Regions from separate parts of the Homo sapiens genome. Here region 1 is linked to region 2. The links come from fine-mapping of genetic effects on gene expression. A gene starts in region 2. The other region holds a variant in brackets. All regions are shown on one strand. Distances are between the middles of the regions.

Region 1 (5,375 bases), 26 kb before region 2:
ACGTCCTCATCCCTGGAACCCGTGAATGTACAAGGTTACACGGCCAAGGGGAATGGAGGCTGCTGAGCAGTCTCCTTGAGCTGGGGGAGACGACCCTGGATTACCCAGATGATGACATCGTGACCCAGTGTCATCACAAGGGGCTTAGTGCAGGAGGGAAGCAGAGGTGTTGCAGGCGGAGGGATGCAGCATGGGAAAGATGGCCTCGCCGTTGCTGGCTTTGAAGATGGAGGTTGGAGCCGTGAGCCCAGGAATACAGGTGGCCTTGAGAAGCTGGAGGAACGGATTCTCCCTGTGAGCCTCTAGAAGGAACGTGGTCCTGCCCACACCTTGATTTTAGCCTGCTGAGACCCACTGTGGGCTTCAGCCCTCCAGAACTGTAAGCTCACACATTCATGTTATTTCCAGCTCCCAAGTTCACGGCGATTTGTTACAGCAGCAACAGGAAAGGGAAACACAAATAAACACGTGTAACATATGTGTCCCACCATCCTAAGCACAGCAGGGTCAAAGGAAGCCAGATGGAGGCTAAGGACTGTGGGGGATGTTTGCATTTTTAAACAGAGTGAACAGGTAGGGAGGGTCTCACAGAGAAGGCGACATTCAAGTAGAGGTCTACAGTAAGCCATCTGCATAATGGGTGAAGTGAACCAGGCAGAGGGAATAGCGTGTGCAAAGGCCCTGAGGTGGGAGCAGGGCTGCTGTGTTCAGGGCTGAGCAGGCACCATTGTGCCTGCGTAGAGAGATCAAGAGGGGACAGAGGGAGGAGAGCCCATGGAGGTTGTGGGGGTGCGGGTCAGATGAGGGCCTGGTGTATTAGAAGCTGCTGGACAAATGCATTCCAAGGTCCTACGAGCCATGCGGGGACAGAGCTCCCAGCCTCCAATGGCAGAGCATGTTTCTCCAGAAGCAGGGCTTGATCCGCCCTGTTCCCAGCTCTGCCCAGGCCTGCTGAAGGGGTTTGCACGTCCCTGAAGTAAGGAAGGGGTGTGCTTACCCCCTCTCTGCCACCAGCTCTTACCTTCTAGGCCAGCCCATTGCTTGGAATGTTTTCTTCATCCCAGTGCCTGATACAGCCTGGTCCTGGCAGGAAGCGGAGGCTGCAGTGCACCCAAACAGAGATATCGTGACCTTCCTGTCACCCTGGAACTGCCAGGCCTAGAGGAGAAGGCGGCACTGCCTCCCTTGGGATCAGGGCTCAGGGGTTGCCCTGAGCTTGGGCAACAGGGCTGCAGCCGAAGGAGAAAGGTCACTGTTTCCTCTTCACTTCCTGTGCTCTGTGACCTGGGGCTGGTGGCTCACCTTCTCTGGGCTTTGATCTCATCTGTGCCACGAGCAGTTAGATGAATCATGAGTTGCAAAGAAACGGCCTGCAGCCACATCCCGTCCACAGATGTGTTTAAATGTTTTAAATTAGTTGCCAATACTTAGAAATTGGGAAACTTCTTGTAAATCTCTAGATTTCTGGTTTTTCTTGAGAAACCAGATATGGCAGTGCTTGTGACTAGAGCTGAGTAGCAGCTGCCTCCGTCCCCACCCAGCTCCCTCGGTGGTTTCTGGCTCCTGCCTGGCTTTTGGAGTCTATGAGTTTGCAACCCTGGGCTCTAGAGGCCCTTCCAGCTCGGATTTCACTAATTCATGCAACAGAAATCCTTTGAGTGTTTAACATGTGTAGGACTCAGAGATAAGTCTGTTTTACAGATGATGGAAGGGAGGCTCAGAGAGGGGTTGTGACCTGCCAGAGTCACACAGTCAGTGGCGGGGGCTGCATCTGAGCCACACTGGCAATAGATGATCGATCCAAAAGGGCTTTAGCCAAAATTCATTGAATACTGACTATGTGCCCAGTGCCAGACCACAGCCCCTAACCAGACAGACAAGATCGTGACTTCCTGGGCCGATATGGCAGTCCCTGGAGCCGAGTGATCAACAGATAAATATGTAATGACACCTGGGCTAGCTGGGAAGGTGCAGATACAACCTGGGGTGGTCACAGGGAGGGAGGGGGCGACATTAGCGCAGTTTCCTAAGGAATGAGGGTTTGAGGCCAGACTCGGTGTGGACTCCCTTCCTCCTCTCATGTCTAGTATGGATCCTTTGGCAAGGGCCAGGAGACTGGAAGGGGAATCCCTCCTTGTGGCCGATTTTCCACTAAGACGGTGGTGACGCGTGGCTCAGGAGCCAGGCTGCCCGCCAGGGTGTCTGCTGCTCATCCACCATGCGACCTCAGACAGGGACTTAATCTCTCTGCACCTCAGTCTCCAAATCTGTAAAATGGAGTCAATTTGGGTGTCTAGCTCACAGGGGCGTGGTGGCAGGATGAAGTGAATTACAAATTCTAGTAAGTGAGTCACCTGGGACATTGGGCTGTGGTCTACAGTGAGGTGTGATCCCTGAGGAGAGAAAGAGAGGCTACAAAGATCAGAGCGTGTCCATCCTCTGAAGGACTGGTCAGGGATTAAAGGACTGTAGGAGACGTGGGACACGTGGTAGGTAAAAAAA[A/GA]GCGGCCGTGTGTGCTGTGTAGTCCGATCTCATGGACAACGGTGGGACTTGAACCACTGCTGACTCTACCTGCAGGAATTTTCCACCTCGGTGGAGGGTGGGACTAACCTCCACAGGAGGCTGGGATTAGTATGTGGTCATCTATCCTCTGGTGAACCCAGCCAGCCGGGGGGCACCTGGGCAAGGGTTTGAGGAGGAGGGAGGAAAGTGGAAGGGAGGGAAGACGGTTGTGCCTGGAGGCGCAGAATCCTGTGTCTCCTGGCAGGGAGGAGCTGGGGTTCTTGGCCATTTCTGAGCAAACAATAATGTCTTCCCAATACATTGCAGGCTCACCACTGCCATTCTCTGTGTGCCTGACAGAGACAGAGATGCACAGGCCTTTCGCCCTCCACCTCCTCTCTCTCTCTCTCTCTCTCTCTCTCTCTCTCTCTCACACACACACACACACACACACACACACACACACACACCCCCCACCTGGATGCATCTTCACCTCTCACCCCCTTTTAATGTCCCAGGAGTTCAGCCCCAGCTCAGCCTGCTGGTTCAATGCAGGAAGAAAAACCACAAGTTTCCATTTTGTCCATACAGAGAAGGGACTGGGGCCTCAGTAGAGAGGCAGTGCCGAAGCCCCAACCCCTCACCCCACCGCCTTTTGCTCCCCATCATCCTTGGATCTCCCAGGAGAGGAATTATCCCAGATCAGAAGAAGATGGAAGCAGGAATGAGGGAGGGTAGAGGCTGAGAGACACCTGTACAGTCCTGCTCTGTCCCTCACCTGAACCTTGCAGGCAGGTAGTGAGCCTTCAGTAAATGTTACATGGATGGATGGATGGACTGGTGGATGAATGGGGGTAGATGGGAGAATAGATGAATGGGTGAGTGAATGAGTAGATGGGTGAGTGGGTGGATGAATACATAGGTGGATGGAAGAATAGGTGAAATGAGTGGGTCAATGAGTAGATGGGTGGATGGATGGATGGATGGGTGGATGGATGGATGCATGGGTAGATGGATGGATGGATGGATGGTGGGTGAGTGGATGAAAGGGTGGATGGGAGAATAGATGAATGAGTGAGTAAATGAGTGGATGGGTGAGTGGATTGAGGACAGATGAATGGGTGGGTGGGTGAATGGATGGCTGGATAAATGGATGGATGGATTGATAGACAGGTGAGTGGATAGATAGATGGATAGATGGGTGGATGGAAGAATGGATGAAATGGGTGGGTAAATAAGTGGATGTGTGGGTGGGTGGGTGGATGGATGGGTGAATGGGAGAATAGATGAATAAGTAAATGAATGGATGGGTGAGTGGATGAATGGATGGATGGATAGATGGATGGACAGATGGATGAATGAGTGGGTGAGTGGGTAGATGGATGATTAGGACTTAATCCTGAGAATACTGGACTTGGAGGAAAATTACTGGGTCATTAGGATCCTGACCACAGAGTCATCCAGGCCAACTTCACCTCCTCTCCTCCTGGTTCCCTCAAGCCCAAGCATCTTCAGGGAGAGGAATCTCCTCAGAGCAGGAGGATAGAAATACAAGGTAGAAAGGGAGCAGGTAAGGGATGAGAGGACCTGTGGGAACATGGGTCTGGACGAACAATAACCCAGCCTCTGTGGTATCTGGCTTTGTACAGCTCTGGAGTCAGGCAGCCGGGGTTCAAATCCCAGCTCTATTGCCTCCTTGCTGTGTGACCTTGGACAAGTTACTTCACCTTCCTGGGCCTCTGCTTTTTCATTGGCCAAATAGGGTAAAAATAGTACTTCCATGAGCTAAAGGTTGTTATGAAGACTCTGTGGGAGGACGTGAGGCATTTTGCACTGGGTGTGACATGCTGTTAGTCTCAGTAAACATCAGTGACTATTATTTCATGCTTGTCATTGTTCCATGTGCTTTCTATAAATGAGCTCATTTGATTCTCTTAATCTATGAGGTGTGGGCTAGTATTTTTTCCATTCCACAGATAAGGGCTGGGGAGGAGTCCTTGGATGGCTCAACTGGAAGGAAATCTCCCCAGACAGCTGCTGTTAGCAGGAAGGGAGTTTGGATCTGGGGCCTTCCACAGGGTCTGCGGCAAGTGGGTGTTGGGATGAATTGGAGAAAGATCATTGAGAAAGCCTCGGGTTGGAGTTAACTTGTCTTGAACACCTCTCTGACACCTGCCAATCTCCTTTTTAAGAAAGACACAACAGCCTCAGGCTTAAATTTTTTTTTTCAAGAGAGTATCGATTTTCTAAAGCCTCAGGCTTAGAAACTACAGTAGCAATCATACCCTGTGAGAATTTGATAACTTTTTCACATCTTCATGGAATTTATATGCATAGGGTTTTCCTTTCTTTCTCTCTCTCTCTTTCTTTCTTTTCTTTTTTTTTTTTTTTTTTTTTTTTTGCTATTTATAGCAAGTATGTGCTGATACTGGCTTTCTGTTTCTAGTGATATTGTCAAGATTCCTTTAAATGAGTTTCTTTATATAAAAAGAAAAATGCTAAGTTGTAATAGAACAGAGGGTATAAAGATGTGGCAAAAACCAAACTGAACACACACACACACACACACACACACACACAACCCCAGAGATCATGGAAAACAGTTTACTTAGCACATGCACGCAGTCATCCAAATCACACTGGCTCTCATTCATTCATTCATTTACATGTTTGTTCAACAAGTACTTACAGAGCACCTACTATGTGTTTGTACACAGAGAACAAGATAAAGTCCTCTTCTTATGGAGCTGACAACAACCCGGCAAAGAATCAAACAGAATCATTTCATCAAGTCACAAGTACAATGAAGGAAACTATGAGTCTGTTCTCACACTGCTATAAAGAAATACCTGAGGCTGGGTCATTTATAAAGA
Region 2 (5,375 bases):
TATAAGCGCTAATTGCGGTTAACTTTCCCTGATGCTCATGGTGTGACAGGCACTCACATAGGTGTGCCCCATGGACCAGGTCGTTTGTTCCTGACCTCAACTCCATGAGGTTCTCTTTTCCCCATTCTGTCAATGAGGAACCTCAGCTTAGGGAGGTGGAGCAGTCTGCTTGGGGTCACAAAGCTGAGGATCGGCCAAGCCCAGCTGTGAACCCCACTGCTAGCAGACAGCCCTTTGGAGCTCCCCAAATTTGGAGAAAATCCTCTGGACCCGTTCTATGGCCTTCTTGGGATTGTTGGCTTCTCTGGCAGATAAGCTGGAAAAATAAACAAGAGGATCAGAAAACTCCTTTTGCCTCCTGCTGTTCTGAATCTGCTGAGGCCACAAGGGGGTCATCCAGCTGCCTCGACAGCCAACATTAAGCAGGCAAATGAATGAATCTTGAGTATGATAGCAGGACATGTGAAGTACTGCCAGAAAAAAAAACTATCAAAAAAACAAAGAAACAAAAATCAGTAAGAGGAGATGACTGTTTTAGACCAGGTGGCCAAAGACAGCTTCTCTGCAGTGACAGCTGAGCAGAGATAGAGGCACCGGGGAGGTGGTGGAAAGAGCAGGCTGTGCGAAGAATGCTCCGAACAGAGGGAACAGCACGTGCAAAGGCCCTGCAGTGGGACCTCTAGGGAAAGATGGGGAGATCAGTGTGGCTGGAGCAGAGTGGGTGAGGGAGAGAGTCGGGGGCATAGGGTCAGGCAGGTAAAGGTGAGAAGGGGCGGATCATGCTGGTTCTCGAAGGGCCTTGTCAGGACCCTGGCTGATAAGGATGGAAGCCAGGAGACCAGGAGGAGCAACAGCTTCTCCAGAGCTCTGCTGGGACTATGGAATGAAACGTGCCTAAGCTCACCCGGCACTGAATGGGTGGATACAGGACTAGAACAAGACCTCCTGGGTCTTACCTCCAGGTTCAGCCCATGGTTTCATAAAACTTAGTGTGCCAAGCACTCAACAGTTTGTGATTCCTTTTAGTGTCAAGCTCTCATCACTTCCTCACAACAGCCCCAGAGGTAAGCACAACTCTGCCCTCCCTGTTTCCAGATAATGAGGTGAGCTCAGAGAGGTTGAGCTACCTGCCCAACGCTTCCCAGGGTGGGAATGGGGATGGTGGGGGCAGGGGCGTGGAGTGAGGCTGGATTGACCCCCAGTTCTCATCAGCACCCTGGGGTGGTACATTGCAGAGCCGCGGGCACAGGGGGCTGGCACCCCAAGCACCAGGTAGCGATGACAATGGCCACCACATCCGGAGGCCCTAACGTGCACCAGGTAGAGGGTGCATACTTCACGGGCACTATCTGTCCCCAAAGCAGGTGAGGATGAGGGGACTCCCTGAGACACCCTTGTACCCCCTGCCCAGTAGTTACTGAAGATACTATAGGGTGCGATATAATCCAGACCAGCCCTCCCAGCCCAGACCACAGAATGGAAAACTCCAGGTCCCCAGCACGCCTGGGGTGGGGGATGGGGTGAGGAGGAGCCTTGGGGGGTTTCCTCTGTCTAGGTGGAATGTGGAATGTGGTGGGAAAGCTCCTCCTGACCCCCTTACACTCCTCCTCCATGTTCGTCCCCTCCCACCACATTTTCTCCTCCCACTGTGCCCCCTCCTCCCCATACCTCCTTGGCTGTTTCCCCATCGTCCCGCCGTCTTCCCACATTCCCTCCTCTTCCCTTCCCCAAAAGTCCTCTCCCATCTTCCCCATCCCTCTTCCCTCCCCGCATATAATCTCTTCCTTCCTGTAAATCCTCTCCCTCTCCCCTCCCTTCCATCACCCCCCAGTCCACCACATCCCCCTCAGTCCCCCATCTATCTCCTTTCCCCTTGATCACTCCCCAGCCCACCACATCCCTTCCGCCCCCTCCCCCTCCCCCTCCTTCTCCCCTCCCCTCCCTCCCACATTTTCCATCAGGCCTGAGCTGGGGGGAGCAGGGTTTCTAACAGAGCGCCCCGGTCCGACCCCTGCGGACCTCGGAGGGCCCCATCCCCCACCCCCCCCACCCCGCCCCAAAGCGGGCTGGGGTGGGCGGAGTGGGAGGGGCGCGCCGGGTGGGGGCGGGGAACTTTACCTGGGAGTGGGCCAGGCCGCCAGCCCCGCCAGCCCCGCCAGCCCCGCCAGCCCCGCGATGGCTTGGGCCGCGCTCCTCGGCCTCCTGGCCGCACTGTTGCTGCTGCTGCTACTGAGCCGCCGCCGCACGCGGTGAGTGTCCTGCTCCGCTCGGCCCCGCCAGACAAAGGGGGCGGCTCCCGCCCGGGCTGCAGCCCAAGGGTCTCGGAGCCCGCGGCCGGCCCGGCCCGAGTCCCGCTCCAGTATCCCGGGCAAGGCGAGACCCTCGGAGGTGGGAGTCCCGGGGCCCCGCACGTGGGTGAGGGGGCCAGGCCGTGCTCCCCCTGCCAAGAAGGTGCAAGGTGGGAAGGTGCGGGGTCCGGTAGGTCCCCCGGGGCGAATCGCCCACCGCGACAAGTCCGAGTCTGGCCCTTAGCGCGACGGCAGGGACCTAGGAGGGGGTTTCAGGTGAGGACCGAGGGTTTGTGGGTGGGGAGCCGTGCGGGGACAGCCTCTGCGTGGCCCGGGTGGAAGAAGCGCTCTCCACTCTCCAGCCTCTGCCTGCACCTGGCACCCACCTACGCGCTGTCAAACCCTGCCTTGCTTTCGGCAGTCCTATAGGGATAGCCTCGCTCCTCAACCCATTACACAGATGGGAGTGTTGAGCCAGCGGAGTGTAGAGCCCCTGGGGGATGTCTTGATCATGCCCTGGAACCACCCACCCCGGGATTCCCCGTCTGGAAGACGGGGGTCGGTGGGCTTAGTAATTTCATTTGCCAGGGAGAAACTGAGGCCTATGAAGTCTCTACCTTCCCCTGAGGTCCCACAGCCTGGACAGAACGGAGCCAGGGTCAGATGTCACAGCCTCCTGGTCCCAAAGGTTTTCCAGCTCCATTGAGCATCTGTGATTTAGGAGAAAAAGTAAAGACAGCCTCAAATCAAGGAGATAGCTGTAGCTCTCCTTTTCATAAAATATTTTTTAAGTTAACTTGAATTGCATAAGGAATAGCTGAATACATTCGACTTAACACAAATATTTATCCTGTTATAGGTAAGACCGAAGCCCCTTAACCCTCCCCCAGCCCCTGAAGTCTAGTCCTCTCTCCCTCTCTGGGCCTCTCCTGTTGCTGAGTCTGGGTAGAACCTTCCATATTTAAAAAAATATACTTTTTATTTGAGACTAGTTTGGGATTTACAGAAAGTTGCAAAGATAGTACAAAAAGTTCCTGTATTTCTCTCACCCCGTTTTCCCTATTGTTAACATCTTACATTGTTATGGGACATTTGTCGCCACTAAAAACCAACACTGGTCCGTTACTCTTAACTAAACTTCAAACTTCACGGGATTTTATCCAGTTTCCCATTACTGTCCTCTTTTGTTCCAGGATCCGGCCCCAAGTTACCACATTGCCTTTAGTTTTCATACCTCCTCAGTCTCCCAGATGTTTTAAAAATTACTCTTACATAAAAATTACTCTTACATACATAGACATGAGCTTGTAGCTAATACAGAGCCACGTAAGAGAGAGTTAGTTTACATTCGTGTCTGAAAATTCCGGAAACCTTGGGAACTTTTTGATTTTTAAACAATATGGTAGTTGAATTTTCAAACAATAAGCTCACTGTATTTTTCTTCAACCTCCAGACATCTTTTCAGCTGAAATTTACAACTGTGTAGTCAATCATTTGCCTTAAAACAAGAAAAGAAAAAGACAGTGAATAAATGTCTCAGGGAAGAAATGAATTATTTTTCCTGTCAGGCTTTCTCAATACACTGTATAGAAATGTTTTCAGACATTATGTTGCTTGCTCTTTTCACTCCAGATTTTAGTTTTGACATCTGTTCTTTTTGCTACAAGCAGATCTTTTTGCTACAAGGAGATCGAATCCATTCTTTTGATCCTCTCTGGAGTCTTCCATCATGTGAATACGTTATGGGCTCTTTTTTTGTTTGTTTGTTTGTTTGAGATGGATCTTCCCTCTTGTTGCCCAGGCTGGAGTGCAATGGCACGATCTCGGCTCACCGCAACCTCTGCCTCCTGGGTTCAAGTGATTCTCCTGCCTCAGCCTCCCCAGTAGCTGGGATTACAGGCATGTGCCACCATGCCCAGCTAATTTTTGTATTTTTAGTAGAGACAGGATTTCTCCATGTTGGCCAGGCTGGTCTCGAACTCCTGACCTCAGGTGATCTGCCTGCCTCGGCCTCCCAAGGTGCTGAGATTACAGGCGTGAGTCACCGCGCCCTGCTGAGCCTTTGATTTTTATACCTGTGGGCACCTTGGAAGGGTCAACAGTGGGTAGTGGGGAGAAGTGTGGGAATGAGGGTCACTGGCAGCTTGAGGGTAGGTGCATGGACCCTGGGGACCCCAGTTTAGATCCCCAATCTCACTTTCTCCTTCCAGTTCAGCTAGGGACACTCTGGTTATCTCCATTTTACAGAGGAGGAAACAGGCTCAGAAAGGCTAAGCAACTTGCTCAAGGTCTGTCTGGATTAAAACTCTGGGCTGTAAGAATTTTTAGCTTTTACTTTTAGTGATAGGATCTCACACTGTGGCCCAGGCTGGAGTGCAGTGTACAATTATAGCTTACTGGAGCCTTGAACTCCTGGGCTCAGGTGATCCTCTCATCTTAGCCTCCTGAGTAGGTGGGACTACAGGTGTGTGCCACCATGCCCAGTTAATTTTAAAAATTTTGTAGAGATGGCATCTTGCCATGTTGTCCAGGATGGTCTCAAACTCAGCTCAAGCGATCCTCCCACCGCAGCCTCCCAAAGTGCTGGAATTACCGGTGTGAACCACCACGCCTGGCTTTGCAAGAATTTTTAATTCACAGGAAGAATGAATTCTCAGTCTTCCCACACATTATACTGGTAATCTGAACACTCAAAAGTCTTAGAACCATGTGACTTTTAGATACTAAGAAATGCAACTACAAGCAAAAAATTCTTAAAGAAGGACAATGGCCGGGAGGGCGGATCACGAGGTCAGGAGATCGAGACCATTCTGGCTAACACGGTGAAACCTCATCGCTACTAAAAAAAAAAAAAATACAAAAAAAATTAGCCGGGCGTGGTGGCAGGCGCCTGTAGTCTCAGCTACTCAGGAGACTGAGGCAGGAGAATGGCATGAAGCCGGGAGATGGAGGTTGCAGTGAGCTGAGATCCTGCCACTGCACTCCAGCCTGGGCGACAGAGCGACTCCATCTCAAAAAAAAAAAAAAAAAAGGGCAAACAAGTGAAACAAGTGGGTGACCCTGATGCCGTCTGAATGGTGATCCAGT

Direction of the effects. Positions count from the first base shown, and alleles are read on the strand shown. Sizes are in standard deviations (SD) of each study's normalised expression.
In carriers of allele A in region 1, the expression in left ventricle of the gene that starts at base 2,155 in region 2 tends to be lower than with GA alone (small effect, 0.14 SD a copy in GTEx).

Evidence for each region. PIP is the estimated chance that this variant, and not a neighbour inherited with it, causes the effect.
Region 1: its variant is the best candidate, but not a certain one, in a credible set for the expression of PTGIS in left ventricle (GTEx, PIP 0.58).

The regions. Positions count from the first base shown.
Region 1 is chr20:49,590,476-49,595,850 of GRCh38, reverse strand. It overlaps LOC105372651 (a long non-coding RNA gene), which reads right to left and starts at 1,281. Exons shown (of 4, transcript XR_001754713.2): 1 at 1,022-1,281. RefSeq lists an enhancer at 1-90. The variant A/GA (reference allele first, on the strand shown) is at 2,503.
Region 2 is chr20:49,564,917-49,570,291 of GRCh38, reverse strand. PTGIS (prostaglandin I2 synthase) reads left to right here and starts at 2,155. Exons shown (of 10, transcript NM_000961.4): 1 at 2,155-2,249. The coding sequence starts at 2,176. It overlaps LOC101927486 (a long non-coding RNA gene), which reads right to left and starts at 2,248. Exons shown (of 2, transcript XR_244188.4): 1 at 2,119-2,248. RefSeq lists enhancers at 624-1,238, 1,239-1,855.